Regions from separate parts of the Homo sapiens genome. Here region 2 is linked to region 1. The links come from fine-mapping of genetic effects on gene expression. Tissue or cell type: whole blood. Region 1 holds a variant in brackets; the other region holds the start of a gene. All regions are shown on one strand. Distances are from middle to middle.

What was found. PIP is the estimated chance that this variant, and not a neighbour inherited with it, causes the effect.
Region 2: IPCEF1 starts here. The variant in region 1 is fine-mapped to the expression of IPCEF1 in whole blood (INTERVAL, PIP above 0.99).

What each region holds. Positions count from the first base shown.
Region 1 is chr6:154,164,214-154,172,328 of GRCh38, reverse strand. It overlaps IPCEF1 (interaction protein for cytohesin exchange factors 1), which reads left to right. Exons shown (of 12, transcript NM_001130700.2): 11 at 4,216-4,409. It also overlaps a transcript of OPRM1 not described here. Among named protein-coding and RNA genes, the nearest start is that of OPRM1, 130 kb to the right of the region's middle. The variant G/A (reference allele first, on the strand shown) is at 4,048.
Region 2 is chr6:154,352,472-154,360,586 of GRCh38, reverse strand. It overlaps IPCEF1 (interaction protein for cytohesin exchange factors 1), which reads left to right and starts at 3,784. Exons shown (of 12, transcript NM_001130700.2): 1 at 3,784-3,915. LOC105378067 (a long non-coding RNA gene) reads left to right here. Exons shown (of 3, transcript XR_007059823.1): 3 at 1-694.

The DNA of each region.
Region 1 (8,115 bases):
CCTGCTTCAGCTCACCCTCCATGGGCTGCACCCACTGTCCAACCAGTCCCAATGAGATGAACCAGGTACTTCAGTTGGGAATGCAGAAATCACCTGTCTTCTGCATTGATTTCACTGGGAGTTGTAGACTGGAGCTGTTCCTATTTGGCTATCTTGGAAGCAATGATAATAATTTTTACTGTGACATAATTACAAACAAAATGTTTTAGTCAAAAATATTTTTTTCTTTTAGTGGCTCAATTGGTAAGTTGTTTTCTATCACAATCTTTAGTAGCACAATGTAGCTACTTGGTGAACACAGAGAAATGTAAAGAAACCATTCTATTTATCTTTGTCATACTCTTGTTTGGTTTGCTTGTTGATGTTTGTTAAACATATATTCCTTAATTCAAAAATACTGTGGTATTGAAAGCTATGTGTTTATGCCTTAATCTAAGTAGAATTCTACCTTGTTAGCTGTATTTTTTTAAAAAGTAAAAGGACATGTAAAATTACTGTGTCTTAAAACTGAAAACTCTAAGTCTTCAATCCTAATGCCCCCCTTCAGGAGTCAGATTTCTTTCCACTTAACTTCTTTAAGACTTTCCAGTGTCTCCAGCTTGACCCCATGACTGTGGCCATGCTTAGTATTTCTGCTATGTAGCATCAGCTCTCATGACAATCTCATAAATGACTACTTTTTATAGTTTTATTGAGATATATTTCACATACCATAACATTCACACATGAAAGTGTACAGTTCATTGGTTTTTAGTATATTTGGAATTGTGCAGCTGTCATCACAATCTAATTTTGGAACATTTCAGCATCACAAAAAGAAATCCTTACACATTAGCTGCCATTCTCCACTCCTGCTTGTCCCCTCCCAGACCCCAGGCAATTATTATTCTGGTTTCTGTCTCTGTGGGTTCATCTAATCTGGACATTTCATATAAATGGAATCACGCAATATGTGGTTGTTTGTGACTGGCTTCTTTTACTTAGCAAAATGTTTTCAAGGTTCACCCATGTTGAAGTATTGTGGACAACTGAGTATTTATTTTAATTATTGAATACTATTCTGTCACATGCAAATGCCACATTTTGTTTATCCTTTCATCAGCTGATGAACATTTAGGATCTTCCCAAGTTGAGTCTGTTATGAATAATGCTGCCGTGAACATTCATGTACAATTTTTGTGTGAATATATGTTTTCAATTCTCTTGGGTATTTATGTAGGAGTGTAATTGCTGGGGCACATGCTAAACTCCATGAGAAATGGACAAACTATTTTCTAAAGTGGCAACTCAATTAGCTGAGCATGGTGGCATGCACCTGTAGTCCCAGCTACTTGAGAGGCTGAGGCAGGAGAATCTAGTGAGTCCAGGAGTTCAAGGCTGCAATGAGCTATGATCATGCCACTGCACTCCAGCCCAGGTGATAGACCAAGACCCTGTCTTTAAAAAATAAACAATAAAATAAAAGTAGCAGCTCTGTTTTACATTCCCACTAACAATGTATGAGGGTTCCAATTTATCCACATCCTCATCCACACTTACTACTGTCTGTCTTTTTAATTGTAGCCACCCTGGGTGTGAAGGGACATCTCATGATGGTTTTGGCTTGCATTTCCCTCATGACTGATGATACTGAGCATCTTTTCATGTGCTTATTGACAAAAGCCCACTTTTGATGTCTGCACACGGTGTGAGCCAAAAGTCTAATTGTCTTCAGATGTAGTTTTGAGTATTTTCTTCCCTTTTGTGAGACGGTTTGGTAGAGAAAAAGGAGGTTGTGCTGATGAACATTTTAAGTCAGCTATGAAGTGAGTGCATCATCTTTGCTTTCTGTTTTATGAAAGAGTATTGGTGACTTTCTGGGATGGATAGGGGAAACTAATTCTTGCATAAAGGTTTCTAATCGTAGAGGAGTAAACTCTAAGGCATGTGAAGTTTGCTTGGTTTTGATGCTCCTAGGTCACCATTATATGCTTTTCTCCACCCTATGGAGAGGCTGTTTTTCTAGTTCCTCTAATGCCATACTTTCTATAGAGTCCTCTTTCAAGCTGGTTCTTTGGACAGGAAGTGAAACATATAAACATTAAGGAGTATGTGGTGGAAAAAGAAATCTCATTGTATTTCTTTCCCAAGCTTTCTTCCAAGGAATAAAGGAAAAATAGACTAACGTTCTTAGTGAGAAATTAAAGCAACATCAAAGGATGAAGATTTTCTTTGAGTAACCTCTGTATCATTTGAGGCCCTTCCAGGTGCATATGATTGGAAACCAAAGCCAGGGTAGCTTAACATGGGTAACATATTAGCTCCCACAGGCTGAGAGGGCTCCAACGGTATCATCAAGATCTGTGTCTCAGAATGGGTTGGCTTCCATATCATTATTCTTGGGATACTTCCTGGAAACTTCCAGCTCACACTATCACAACATTCAGCTTAAGAAAAAAGAGAGATTACTTATCTGATACTCCAAAGTCTTGGAACTGAGTCTCCTTGGCCCCAAATGGCCTGACCAGAGGCACATGTTTATCTCTGAATCAGTGACTGTGGCCAGAATGGTGGAACTGCCATTGGCCTCGTCTAGTCCACATGGTCCCCAGTAGATCCTGTGGTGGAGTGGCTTCACTGCAATCATGTGGGCCGAGGCTGGCAAAGTGTGGTTAGGAAGGGAGATGGAGTCTGTGTGGCAAGATGAGGAATGATCACTTTCTACTCAAAACCACAGACCACAGACAGGTTTCTTCTCTCCAAGGGTAGTTCTGGGAAGGACATTAAGCAATCATCTAGGGCAGTAGTTCTCAAACTTTAGCATGTGTATAATTTGCTAGGGCTTATTTGTCCCACACTGTGTTTTAGAAGCAGATATTTGTCGACTTGCATGGGTTTAAAGATGGAGATGAATTTTGTCTCAGGATGAATCACTCCCCCACTGAGTTTCAGCAATACCTGGTTTAGATGATATTTTGTGTGTGTGTGTGTGACAGAGTCTCACTCTGTAGCCCAGGCTGGAGTGCAGTGGTGTGATCTCAGCTCACTGCAACCTCCACCTCCCAGGCTCAAGTGATTCTCGTGTCTCAGTCTCCTGAGTAGCTGGGATGACAGGCACGCACCACCACACCCAGCTAATTTTTTGTATTTTAGTAGACAACGGGTTTTACCATGTTGTCAAGTGTGGTCTCAAACTCCTGAGCTCAGGCGATCCTCCTGCCTTGGCCTCCCAAAGTGTTGGGATTACAGGCGTGAGCCACCACACCCAGCCTGGATGATATTTGGGTGAGCTTTTGGTCTTAGAGTTGATGGTGGAATGGGTTAAGACTTTTGGAGTTGTTGGGATGAGGTGAATATATTGCACGTGAGAAACACATGAATTTAGGAGGCCGGAGGGTGGACTATGTATGGGTTGAATTGTGTCCCTCTAAAATTCATATGTTGGGCTGGGCGTGGTGGCTCACACCTGTAATCCCAGCACTTTGGGAGGCCAAGGTGGGCGGATCACCCAAAGTCAGGAGTTCAAGACCAGCCTGGGCAACATGGTGAAACCCTGTCTGTACTAAAAATATAAAAATGAGCCGGGCATGGTGGCAGGTGCCTGTAATCCCAGCTACTTGGGAGGCTGAGACAGGAGAATCACTTGAACCTGGGAGGTGTAGGTTTCAGTGAGCCAAGATTGTGCCATTTCACTTTAGCCTGGGCAACAGCAGTAAAACTCCGTCTCAAAAAAAATAATAATAAAATTAATTAATTAATTAATAAAATTCGTATGTTGACGTCCTAACCCCTAATACCTCAGAATGTGACCTTATTGGGAAATGGGGTTGTTGCAGATTTAACTAGTTAAGATGAGTTAATAGGGCAGGTTTCTAATCCAACATGACTGATACCCTCATAAATAGGGGGAGTTTGGACACAGAGACATGCATGCAGGGAACACCCCATGTGAATATTGGAGTTATACTGCCACAAACCAAAAAACCACTTGAAGCCAGGAGAGAGGCTTGGAATAACTCCTTCCCTGGTGCCTTCACAGGGAACGTGGCTCTGCAGTAACAAAGTATC[G/A]CAAACTGGGTGGCTTAGACAGCAAACATTTATTGTCTTTCAGTTCCGGAGAGAAGTCTGAGATGAGGGTGCCAGTGGGGCCGTGCCTTGGGACCACAGTATTGAATGTTCTCTCCTTGATTTTTCACTGGGTTTATTGTTACTGCTTTCTTTTTTTTTTTCAAATAGAAGAGACAAAAGTGTCTGAAGATGATGAAATGGAGAAGCTGTACAAATCATTAGAGCAAGCTAGTCTATCTCCTCTTGGGGACCGACGACCTTCGACTAAAAAGGAGTTGAGAAAATCCTTTGTTAAGCGGTGTAAAAATCCATCTATAAACGAGAAACTCCACAAAATCCGAACATTGAATAGCACATTAAAGGTAACAAAATTTCAAATTGTGGATGAACTCTATGGATGTGGGGCAAGGAACGGCTGGTTCTGCAGAGAGATTCTTGCTAATCACAGCATGTTTGTGTGGTTGCAGGGAAGGGCTGTAAAAGTAAATATAACCTTTATAGGGCAAGATGATCTTGACGTTCTTAAAGCACTAGGACATTCACACAGTAGCGCCCAAGGCAGTTTTTCACAATAGGCCTTGATGTTTGCATTCACTCTGATATAAAATTTCAAATTTTAAGCTTCTGGACAGCAAGGACCATGCATAATTTGTTTTTTAACCCTTATACCTAGCACAGTACCTGGTTCAATAAATGTTGATGAGAGACAGAGATCATCAACTGGTGAGAATAAACAGTCGTATAAATAAGATCTCGAATTTTCATCTGATTCATACAAGGGTACCAGTCTTCAGGACTGCATCCAGAAGGAAATGTCTTGATTTCAGCTGCAGCAAAGATGTAGTGATTGTCAGCTGTGGGCACTGCAGCCAAGGAGCACCATGAGAGCCCGACAGTGGGAAGTACACACTCTGTGGTAATAGACCAGCAGATGTTTTCACAATGGGAATAAGGGAAAGTGTACAGGAAGTACTGAAGCTATTTTCAGGCCCTCCCTGAGCTGAAATGGTTCTTCATAACAAAAGTGTCCTGCTTTCACATTTAGATTATAACATGAACAGGTGGAGGCCAGGATACTTTGTAAAATGCTCCTGATTTAGCAGACGATTTATCTGAAAAGCTTTGATAGATTCTGTAAGTGAATTTTGTTTTGTCTGTGGCCTTTGGCATTAAGAACTTAAGTCATTTTCCAGGAAGAAATGTCAGCAATTGAAAGGACAAGGCTACAAAGGCAGGCTGAGTGGCTCTTAGGCGTCCCAGTTAGTCAGTAGAACATCTGAACACCCTAAAAGGCTACAAAAATGAGGCCAGAATGGAAAAAGAAAGTAAATTTTAATTATACAAAGATAATACAAATGCAGAGAAATTCACTCTTATTTAATATTAAAATTTTTATCGATAATAAAAGATATCACTGGCCGCCATTTCACAGTATGTACGAAGCTGATGAATATATTTGATTATTCAATGTAATATGTCATAGCGTGTTGGGATTTTACTGTCTTCTTTGTCTGTGATAGCTGATATGAGTGAGTAAAGTTTTCATTGAGCAAGTATTTCCTGACTCTTACTATGTACCAGCCACTATTCTAGGTGACTGGGACCATTGAATGGACTCTACCGGTGTAGAAACAGAGGAAAACAAATACATGATTAAAATGAAGTGCAAAAATACTCTGGTTGAGATGTGCTCAGGGTGCTTTGGTGGTCCAAGGGGGACAGTGGATTACTGGAGGCATTAGGAACACTGTCACGAAATCCGTGAGTCAGGAAGAAATGAATACCAAGGGAAGGACATTCAAGGAAATGGAATGTCTGTCAACGGATAATAAGCTGTAGTTCCACGTTGGGAGAAGCAGGAAGTAGAGGCCGCGGAGAGCATGTGCAGTTTGAGTCATTAGTAGAAGGAGAAAGGCTGTGGCCTCAGGCCTTCCACAGAGCAGCAGACTCAGGATTCTAGATCTTTACGGCACCATGCCCTCACCTGGCCACTGGGGGGCCAACTTTGTGAAAAGAATTAGTGTTACCATTCCCTATGGGTCTCTGTGACCTCGTCATTGGTGAATTCAGCAGCTTTTGCTTTTCTGTCAGTGTATCGGTTATCCAGTGCTAGGTAACAAATTATCCCAAAGCTTAGCAACTCCAAACAATCAGCATTTATTATTTCAAAGTGTCTGTGGCCAGGAATCTGGGTGTGGCTTGCTCAAATGCCTCTGCCCCCAGGTCTCTCACAAGGCTGTGATCAAGCTGTCAGCTGGGGCTGCATTCATTCCTCCATGGAGAGGGATCAGTTTCTAAACTCCTGCATGTTAATTATTGGCAGGATTCAGGTCCTTTCAGGTTGCTGGACTGAGGGTCTCAGTTGCCCTCTGGCTGTTGGCCAGAGGCTCCCCTCAGTTCCTTGCCACATGGGCTTCTCCACAGGGCAGGTCACAACTTGGAAACTGGCTTCTTTCAGAGCAAGCAACACAGTGAGAGTGAGTGAGTGAGATGGGTTATAACCCAGTGGCAGCAATGACATCACATTACTTTTGCAGTATTCTATTCAGTAGAAGCAAGTCATTGGGTCATCTCATTTTCAGGGAGGAGATTACACAAGGCCTTGAATACCAGGAAGCAGAGAAGATTGGGGGCCCGCTCAGGGCTGCCTGCCCCACCCAGCTAGGGAACTGCTCTTTCTGGACATTTGTGAGAAGGAGCCCTTTCCATAGATCCCTCGTGCAGTGCTTGGGGCTGATGAAATAGAACAGGACCCATGTCATGCAGTCCTATTAATCTCAGGAGGTAGGAGGACATGCTGATGTGGAAATTGGTCTTGCTGAAGAAGCTGAACAAAAGCAAAGTGCATCAACCTATTCAAAGGAGAGAGAGAACTTGGTACATGTGTGCATGTTCATGTTGGAAGGGTATAATAATTATTTCTAATTGTTTTTAAAATTCAAAGCAGTCAAGAGAGTGGTTGTCTTTGAGGAAGAGGAGAGGATGGGACTGAGAGGGGATGTGAATGGAGCTTCTGAGTGCTGGGTGCGGGTCCTTCTGTGACCCTGGTAGTAGTGGTATGGAAGTGTTTATTTTGTGATAATTCTTTAAGCACAATTTTTCTATTTGTGCACTTTTCTCTGAGTATGATATATTGCACAGAGAATATATCATACACAGAGGAAATGTTTATGTTTTAAAAGCTCCAAAGTAGGAGTGTAGACAAGCAAAGACAACAGAGTTTCATGCAGAAACAAGGAAACTGTTTTAACAATAATGTTTATATTTGCCGCAGGTGCATTCCGTAAATAAGAAAAATCCCTGCACTGGGATAGTACTGGAATGAATGCACTTCAGGGAAATTCTTCTAGGAAGTTGAGCAAACTTCCAAGTTGAACTTGAGCAAAAGTTGATCGTATTATGTTGTACACTAAATACAGATATTTAGGAATTTCTAACAGCTCATCATTCACTGACTTTTGGCTAAGTCTGCTTTTATTTTAAAATAAGTTATTAATGGAATGATTAATGGGTCCAACTGAAACTCTCTCTGAGTTACTCTGACCTATGTCACAAGAGCGGTGAACCCTTTCTTCCCGTAGCTACTCTGGTGGAACACATTTCCAATGCTTAGGTCTTGAGTCGAGCCACACACTGACTATTTGGAGTAAAAACTGAAAGTACAGCATTCTCTCTTTCATGGTATTTTTGGAATCCCTGCCAAACCTTGCTTGCCTGCCAGAAAGCAGAGCGGATGTTGTGAAAGTAGTTCAAAGCCCTCCAAAAGCCTCATGCGCCATCCAGGAGAAGCTGGGCTGCTGGATGAGGCCCAGCCCCAGGATGCCTGGTGTAGGAAGGAGCTTGGAAGGTTCTGTTGTTTCATTAATTTCCTTCTTCTGTATTATTGTCTACATTTTTTTCTTTCATCCATAGAAGAACTAACACAGATTTGAGCCAAATGGTAAAAAATTTGAACTACTTAGAGCCAAAAGCCATATGAGAAGTGTCAGCTTAATGCCCAAAGTTGAAGAGACCCTGTTCTAAAAATTTTATTAGCTATAAAGAGGGGTTAATTCATGTATGCAAAGT
Region 2 (8,115 bases), 190 kb before region 1:
CTTCCCTTCACCTTCCACTGTGATTGTAAGTTTCCTGAGGCCTCCCTAGCCATGCTGAATTAAACCTCTTTAATTTATAAGAGTCAATTAAACCTCTTTCCTTTAGAAATTACCCAGTCTCTGGCAGTTCTTTATGGCAGTATGAAAATGGACTAATACACTGGATGAATGAACACAAAATTCTAGAGTGAAATATAAATCCTTCAGAACTTTGAAGGCTGTGCTCGCTGACCTTCTAACCCTTAATGCTACTTCTGTGAAATCTGGAGCCCTTTGATTCCTTGTTTCTGTGAAAGTGACTTATTTTCTGTGTTTGGGAGATTTTAAGATTTTCTCTTTATTTCCGGAGTTTGGAAATTTTGCAGTGACTTGAAATTCTTCATCCTAGGCACTCGATGAGACTTTTTAATCTAAATATTCTTGGACTTCAGGGGGATCCTTTATGTTATTTCTTTGACTATGTCATCAAATAATATTTCCTGAAAATTTCACTTGAATTTATCACCCAACCTATCAAAATCTTTATTTAACAATTATATTTGCAATATCCAAGGGGTCTTTCTTGTTTTCAGATTATCTATCTTTCTTAGCATCCTGTTCTTTTTAATGGATACAATATCTTCAGGACTGTCTCTAAGGATACTGATTAGAAGCATATCTAGGCCAGGCGTGGTGACTCATGCCTGTAATCCCATCACTTTGGGAGGCCAAGGTGCACAGATCACCTGAGGTCAGGAGTTTGAGACCAGTCTGGCCGGCATGGTGAAACACTGTCTCTACTAAAAATACAAAACATAGCTGGGTGTGGTGGCACATATCTGTAATCCTGGCTACTCAGGAGGCTGAGGCAGGAGAATCACTTGAACCCTGGAGGCGGAGGTTGCAGTGAGCCGAGATAATTAATGCCACTGCACTCCAGCCTGGGTGACAGAGCAAGACTCTGTCTCAAAAAAAAAAAAAAAAAAAAAAGCACATCATCCATCATCCAGCACATGCTAGATGAGGCTCTTATTGCCAGAATGTGGAGTTCTGACTGTGGAGTGCTCATATCCACATACAATGCCTGTATTCTCTGCATGATTTCACTATGTGTAGAGACGAATCCTCGGTATGCTGCCCGGGGTTGGAATTGTGTGTGTTTGCTGTGCAGAGGCTGGGCGGACAGAGAGATTTGAAAGAGGGGTATGGGAGGGGCTGAGTTCTTACAGACTTTGAATTACTCTTCCTGTTTTCAGTCCTGTCACCCTATCACTCATTTAGCTCTCTTAGCTTCTTTTGGCTTGAGTTCCGGTCCTCTCAGGGATTCAGCACCGCACACGGGCAATTTCCTCCAACGCCGTGTTCTCCTAACTAATGAGATATTGTGGTTCCCCTGCCTGCCTCCATCTGTTATTGCTCCTCCATCGGCTTTCAGGCTGCCAGAAATCTGTTGTGCTCTCCCAAGTTCTGATGCTTTTCCTCCTTTTTTGGGTTATTGTGGGTTTATATCTTTTTTTTTCTTTTGAGACGGAATCTCGCTCTGTCACCCAGGCTGGAGTGCAGTGGCGCGATCTCAGGTCACTGCAACCTCCGCCTCCCAGGTTCAAACGATTCTCCTGCCTCAGCCTTCTGAGAAGCTGGGATTACAGGCTCGTGCCACCAGGCGTGGCTAATTTTTTGTATTTTTAGTAGAGACAGGTTTCACCATGTTAGCCAGGATGGTCTCGATCTCCTGACCTCATGATCTGCCAGCCTGGGGCTCCCAAAGTGTTGGGATTACAGGTGTGAGCCACCGTGCCCGGCCCTATAAACTTTTTATACTTTTCTCATTTTAACGGAGTCTTTGGGGAGGGAGGGAGCAAATCTGTGGTCAGCCCGTCATCTTGAACTGACAGTCCGGCCGTTTTGAGGATTATTCTAATTCTACAAATCATCTTTGCTCAAAGAATTTAAGTGGCTCTATTCTGGCCCCATAAAGGTAAATAACATGTCTTTTGAGGATATCTTTGATGATGGCATCTAAATGTCTGGTGAGAAGCCAGGCCATGCTGTTGATACCACTAAATTCCTTTAATATCACCTAGTACCATTTTTTTTTCTACGTAAAGCAGGGAACTAGAAGACAACTCAATATAGGGAGAAGATGAGGCAGCACTTCCAGAAATAGAAGTGTACACAAACAAGAAGCCGCTGAGAGAACCTTCATTTTGTTCCTGCTCAAAATGTACAGCATCTTCTTTCATTTTTTCACTCCTCCACAGATTTAGTTTACATTTTATCTTTGTCTTAGTCATTCAGGCTGTTATATCAAAACACCGTAGCCTGGGTGGCTTACAAACAAAAGACATTTATTTCTCACAGTTCTGGAGGCTGGACATCCAAGATCAAGGCGCCAGCAGATTCATTGTCTGGTGAGGACCTGCTTCCTCGTTCCTAGGTGACTGTCTTCTGGCCATGTCCTCATATGGTGGAGGGGTGGGCAGATCTCCAGGTTCTCTTTAATAAGAAAATTAATACCATTCATGAGGGCACTGTCCTCATGACCTAATCACTCCCCAAAGGTCCACCTCTAAATACAATCACATTGGGGATTAGGTTTCTATATATTCTATATATTCTATATATATATATATATATATATATATATATTTTATATATATATTATATATATATATTTTATATATATATTATATATATATATTTTATATATATATTATATATATATATTTTATATATATATATATTTTATATATATATTTTATATATATATTATATATATTATATATATTTTATATATATATTATATATATTATATATATTTTATATATATAATATATATATTTTATATATTATATATATATAATATATATAATATATATATTATATATATAATATATATATAATATATATATTATATATAATATATATATAATATATATATAATATATATATTATATATATATATTATATATATATATACACATACATATTTATTTATTTATTTATTTTGAGTTGGAGTCTTGCTCTGTCTCCTAGTCTGGAGTTCAGTGGTGCGATCTCGGCTCACTGCAACCTCTGCCTCCCAGGTTCAAGCAATTCTCCTGCCTCAGCCTCCTGAGTGGTTGGGATTACAGGCATCTGCCACCACGCCCAGCTGTATTCATTTCCCTAGAAGGTATAGAGAAACAAGAAGCTGGTGTTGAAAGGGAGATTGGGAGGGCAGGAATTTGTAATGAGATGGAATATCTCTGACTTTCAGCCTGCCATTTTCCTTTTCCAATGTGGGAAAGAAAAGTTTTGTGGTTAGAGACTCTTCTATGTCTACTGCAAAAGATGGCAGGCTAAGACTTATTTTTATCCTAAAATACGTTTTACAAATGTGTCTGTACCCTCTCTTTATTAGAGCATTATGAACGATTAGGAAAGGAGGAAAGAGGGAAATCTGAAAGAAGATTGAACCTAAAGAGGTTGAAGTGGCATTTCACCCAAAAATGCTGAGAATGACTCTGCAGATCATCTCACCCTCCATGCCTGTAAATGAACATCCTTGCCTCCAAAACAGGAAAGCAGAACCATGAACTGTTCCACCAATGTGCTCGGCAAATGAATACACTGGGCAGTGCTTAGTGATCAATGAACTCAGGCAGATGGGGTGTGCTTGCCTTACATGTACTGTGTCCTGGATATGGGCATCAAGGAAGGGTTTCATAACAATGAGAAGGAAGAACGTTAGGATTGAGGAAGTGGAGATGATACTTCCTCTTCTTTCGAAAGAGCTTTACTCTCTGATCAGCTTTGAATGTTAGTTCTGGGTTGACTGAGTTTCCAGAGCTGAGGCTGCTTTAAGTAGAATCCTCAAGCTTGGCCTCAGAGTACTATGAGGCTTCTGAATCCAGGAATAAGACTGCTCTTGGATTTACTCTCTTTGTATTGCATGTAAGTAACGTCACTTCTTGGCTGATGTATGAGAGGTAACTGCTTGACAGATCAAGATGGCAAAGCAATGGATACCCTAGCACTCTCCTTAGAGTAGTGAGGTAGGAAATATGACTTTGGGGATGTAATATTCACTCAGCTCTCTGTAATCTGGGAAGCCAGGTGCTAAAGATTCTTTAATTCTGTGAAAGCTTTGAAAGAGGAGAGAGTTGTGTACTCACTCTGCTTTTATGTTTCTTAAATGGGTGTTGTCTTGATAGGTGTTTAGACTGCAGACCACAGGTTTGATTTAGAAAAGCACAATTCAGCATGTATTTGGGTCCTGAGGAGTTCATTTGGGGAAGCACTCTGGGGCCGCCCTCTTTCGAGAAAGTGTGTTCTTTGCAAGGGAGCTTCCTTTGCATGGAGGCAGCTGGGGGACATTTTACACTTTGATAAAGGTCTCAGGCTTGCCAAAATATCTCTGGTATAAAAATGAAAGCTAGGTGTTGTTGGTTCAGAGTCTTTTAGTAAGGGTGTCTGGGGCACTTGATTTTTCTTTGCTGGGGTATATGTGAAAGTATTTAATTATAGAAGTCAGAATTATAACCCACTGAAGCATCTTTGACTACAGCAGTGGGCTCTATTAGTCTTGAGTGGCCTATGTGTTCCTAGTGCTGTCCTTGATAAAGTCTAATTTCTATCGAGTTATTTATTTTATGTAGAAAATTGAAACCGAGGGCTGGGCACAATGGCTCACACCTGTAATCCCAGTACTTTGGGTGACCACGGCGAGAGGATCACTTGAGGTCAGGAGTTTGAGACCAGCCTGGGGGCAAAATAATGAGACCTCATCTCTACAGGAAGAAAAAAAAAAAGAAAGAAAAGAAAATAGAAAATAGAATGCCGGGTGCGGTGGCTCACGCTTGTAATCCCAGCACTTTGGGAGCCCAAGGCGGGTGGATCATCTGAGGTCAGGAGTTCGAGACCAGCCTGGCCAACATGATGAAACCCCGTCTCTACTAAAAATACAAAAATTAACTGGGCGTGGGAGCATGCACCTGTAATCCCAGCTACCTGGGAAGCTGAGGCAGGAGAATTGCTTGAACCCGGGAAGCGGAGGTTGCAGTGAGCTGAGATTGCGCCACTGCACTTCAGCCTGGGTGACAGAGCAAGAGTTCATCTCAAAAAAAAAAAAGAAAGAAAGAAAGAAAAGAAACAGAAATGGAAAGAACACACATTTCTTTCTGCTCACATCATGCAAGCAAGGAAGAAAAGGGTGTAAGTTTGTGTATGTGTTGATGAACTCATTCTTTAATTTACCTTATAATTTCCTTCCATTCCTCTTTTTATAAATCAAGTGTCTTTTCTGGAGTGGGTCCATGTATGAACTATTTCAGGCAAGCTGTGTTAAGCAAATATACATCATCAGAGTATGGAAATAGGAAGTTCTTTCCTGCGGTAGTTTGCTGTGGCAATAAGAGATAAGAAATTACTTCATCACTATTGCCTGAGACTTTCCTTTTGACTCGTGCATCCTTTTGAACAGCTCACTTCTGCTTTCCATCCAGCTTGGAGGCTCTGCAGTGTGAGCTGATAATTGCAGTACAGGTTAACAATTTGCAAGTAGGTCTAATGTGGCAAATGGTGTGTGTGTGTGTGTGTGTGTGTGTGTGTGTGTGTGTGTGTGTGTGTGAAGAAAAATCCTAAAAAATAAGCTTTTTAGCCTTAAAGAGAATCCTGCAAATGGAGGAGTTACTTGTGCTCCCAAGTGCTCAGAACAGTGCCTGCTCTCAGTAAATATTTGTTGAATGAATGAATAACTGGCATAATTCATAAAATGAATGTGGTAGGAAAGCCATTGCTTTATCTCTGTTACTCAGGCACTTTAAAAAGTGAATGTTAGAAAAGATCAGAGTGGAGGAGGAGAGGAGAATATGAAGGTGTGGAGTAAAGAAAGGGTGTGTAGAACGGGGATCAGAAAAATCCCCAGGTCAGTAAAGTGAAAGGGTTGGCGATACATGGTGGTGGAGGTGGAGGTGGAGATAAAGGGGGTGGTGTTGGAAGTGGTGGTCGTAGGGGAGGTGATGGTGGAAGTGACGGTGGAGATGGTAGAGGTGGTTGTGGAGGCGATGGTGGAGGTGGTAATGGAGATGGTAGAAATGGTGATTGGAGTGGTAGAGGTGATGGTGGAAGTGACGGTAGAGATGGTGGAGGTGGTTGTGGAGGAGATGGTGGAGGTGGTGGTGGAGGAGATGGTGGAGGTGGTGGTGGAGGTGGTGGTGGAGATGGTGGTTGGAGGTGACGGTGGAGGTGACAGATGGTAGAAGTGATGGTAGACATGGTGGAGATGGTTGAGGAAGTGATGGTAGAGGTGATGGTACAGATGGCGGAGATGGTGGTTGGAGGTGATGGTAGTAGAGGTAATGGTGGAGGTAATCATGGGAAGGTCAGTATAATTTAGCCAAGAGAAAACACAGTTGGGGGCTCAGACATATCTGTTCAAAATCTATATCTCTGAACCTACCAGCTCTGTGACCTCCGAACCTATAAAGTGGTGACTATAACATATTGACTTTTTGGGTTGTTGTGTGAGGGTTAAAAATATGATTGCATTAAATGGCAGTTATCGATATCAGTTTTCAAGTTGCCAGAGCCACGCTTAAAAATTTAATCTCTAATTTCTCTTTTTTTCTTTATGCTTTGTGCATTTTCTGAATTTTGTAAAGTGAAAGTGAGTTTTTAAAAGAATCATTAATTTAAAATAAATATGATAAGCCTAGTTATCAGAATGGTTGAACACATGGTGGTATATAAAGAAATGTCATCAAGAAAATGATATTTATGGAAATAGTCTCATGATGTAATGCTAAGTCCAAAAAGGAGGAACATAACTTTTTCAACTATGTAAAAATACTGCAGAGAAGCAAGATTTGGGTGAAATGCATTAAAATGTTAATATATGAGTAGTGGGCTTATAGCTCGTGGTTCTTCTTTCTTTGTACTTTGTACTCTATTTTCTTCCCAGATTTTTCATTAGTGGAACATACCTGAACTATTTTAATAATCTGAAAATAAAACAAACGTTGAAAGAAAGTAAATAGGCCCGGGTGCGGTGGCTCTCATGCCTGTAATCCCAGGACTTTGGGAGGCCAAGGCGGGCGGATCACCTGAGGTCAGGAGTTCCAAACCACTCTGGCCAACATGGCGAAACCCTGTTTCTACCAAAAATACAAAAATTAGCTGGGCATGGTGCGGGCGCACGTAATCCCAGCTACTCAAGAGGCTGAGGCACAAGAACCACTTGAATCCGGGAGGCGCAGTGAGCCGAGATCACGCAGCTGCACTCCAGCCTGGGCAATGAGGGAGACTTCATCTCAAAAAAAAAAAAAAAAAAAAGGAAAAGGAAAAGAAAAGAAATGGACAAAAATGTAACCCTCCTTAAATCTTCCACCAACAGGACGACAAAAGCAATGTTTTAGTGATAGTGTGCTGAAGTTCATGGTTCATTGCAGTCTAAGAAATGACACTTAAAATTTATGTTATTTAGTCTTTGTAGGGAAATCCCCTTTGAGAGTAAGGCTGGTGCAGAATCATGTGTCAACTCTGAAGTGAGAAAAAGGAAACGTGGTCCCACTGGGGCTGGCTGGTCTGATTAATTCCTAGAATGACATGAAAATGGGTTATTTTCTCTGGATGACTTATAACTGCGTCTAAACCTGAGTTTGATGATTTCCTAAAAAATGCAATAGTCAATTTGTCAGTTATTAATTATAAGTTAAATTTAAATCTCCCAATATAATTGTTAATACATTTCTTAGGGAATGTTGCCATATGTTTATCATCTTGGTACTCATAGGGAGAGGTCATAAAAACATTTCTATAGAGTCACAGATTATTTTATAGATTCAAGAATTATCATTCCTGTTGTTAGAATCTTGGCCCTGCCGTCTCACAGGGCCAGCAGGTCACCATGGAGTCCCTTATCAGGGACGTAACCAAAATAAAATATTTTGGCTTGTAGGCATTGAAAAGAATCTTCTGTCTTTGTCTTAGAATCAATCTTTGTCTTAGAAAGGAGAGATAGTCGGCAGACAAAAAGGCAAAGGGCTGAACAAATGTGAGCAAAGACAGGTCTCCCAGACTGACACAGGGATTGACATAGAAGCAGCTGAAAGGTGAAAAGTGAGCCAGCTTAAACTCAGCCCAAAGTTACTAGAA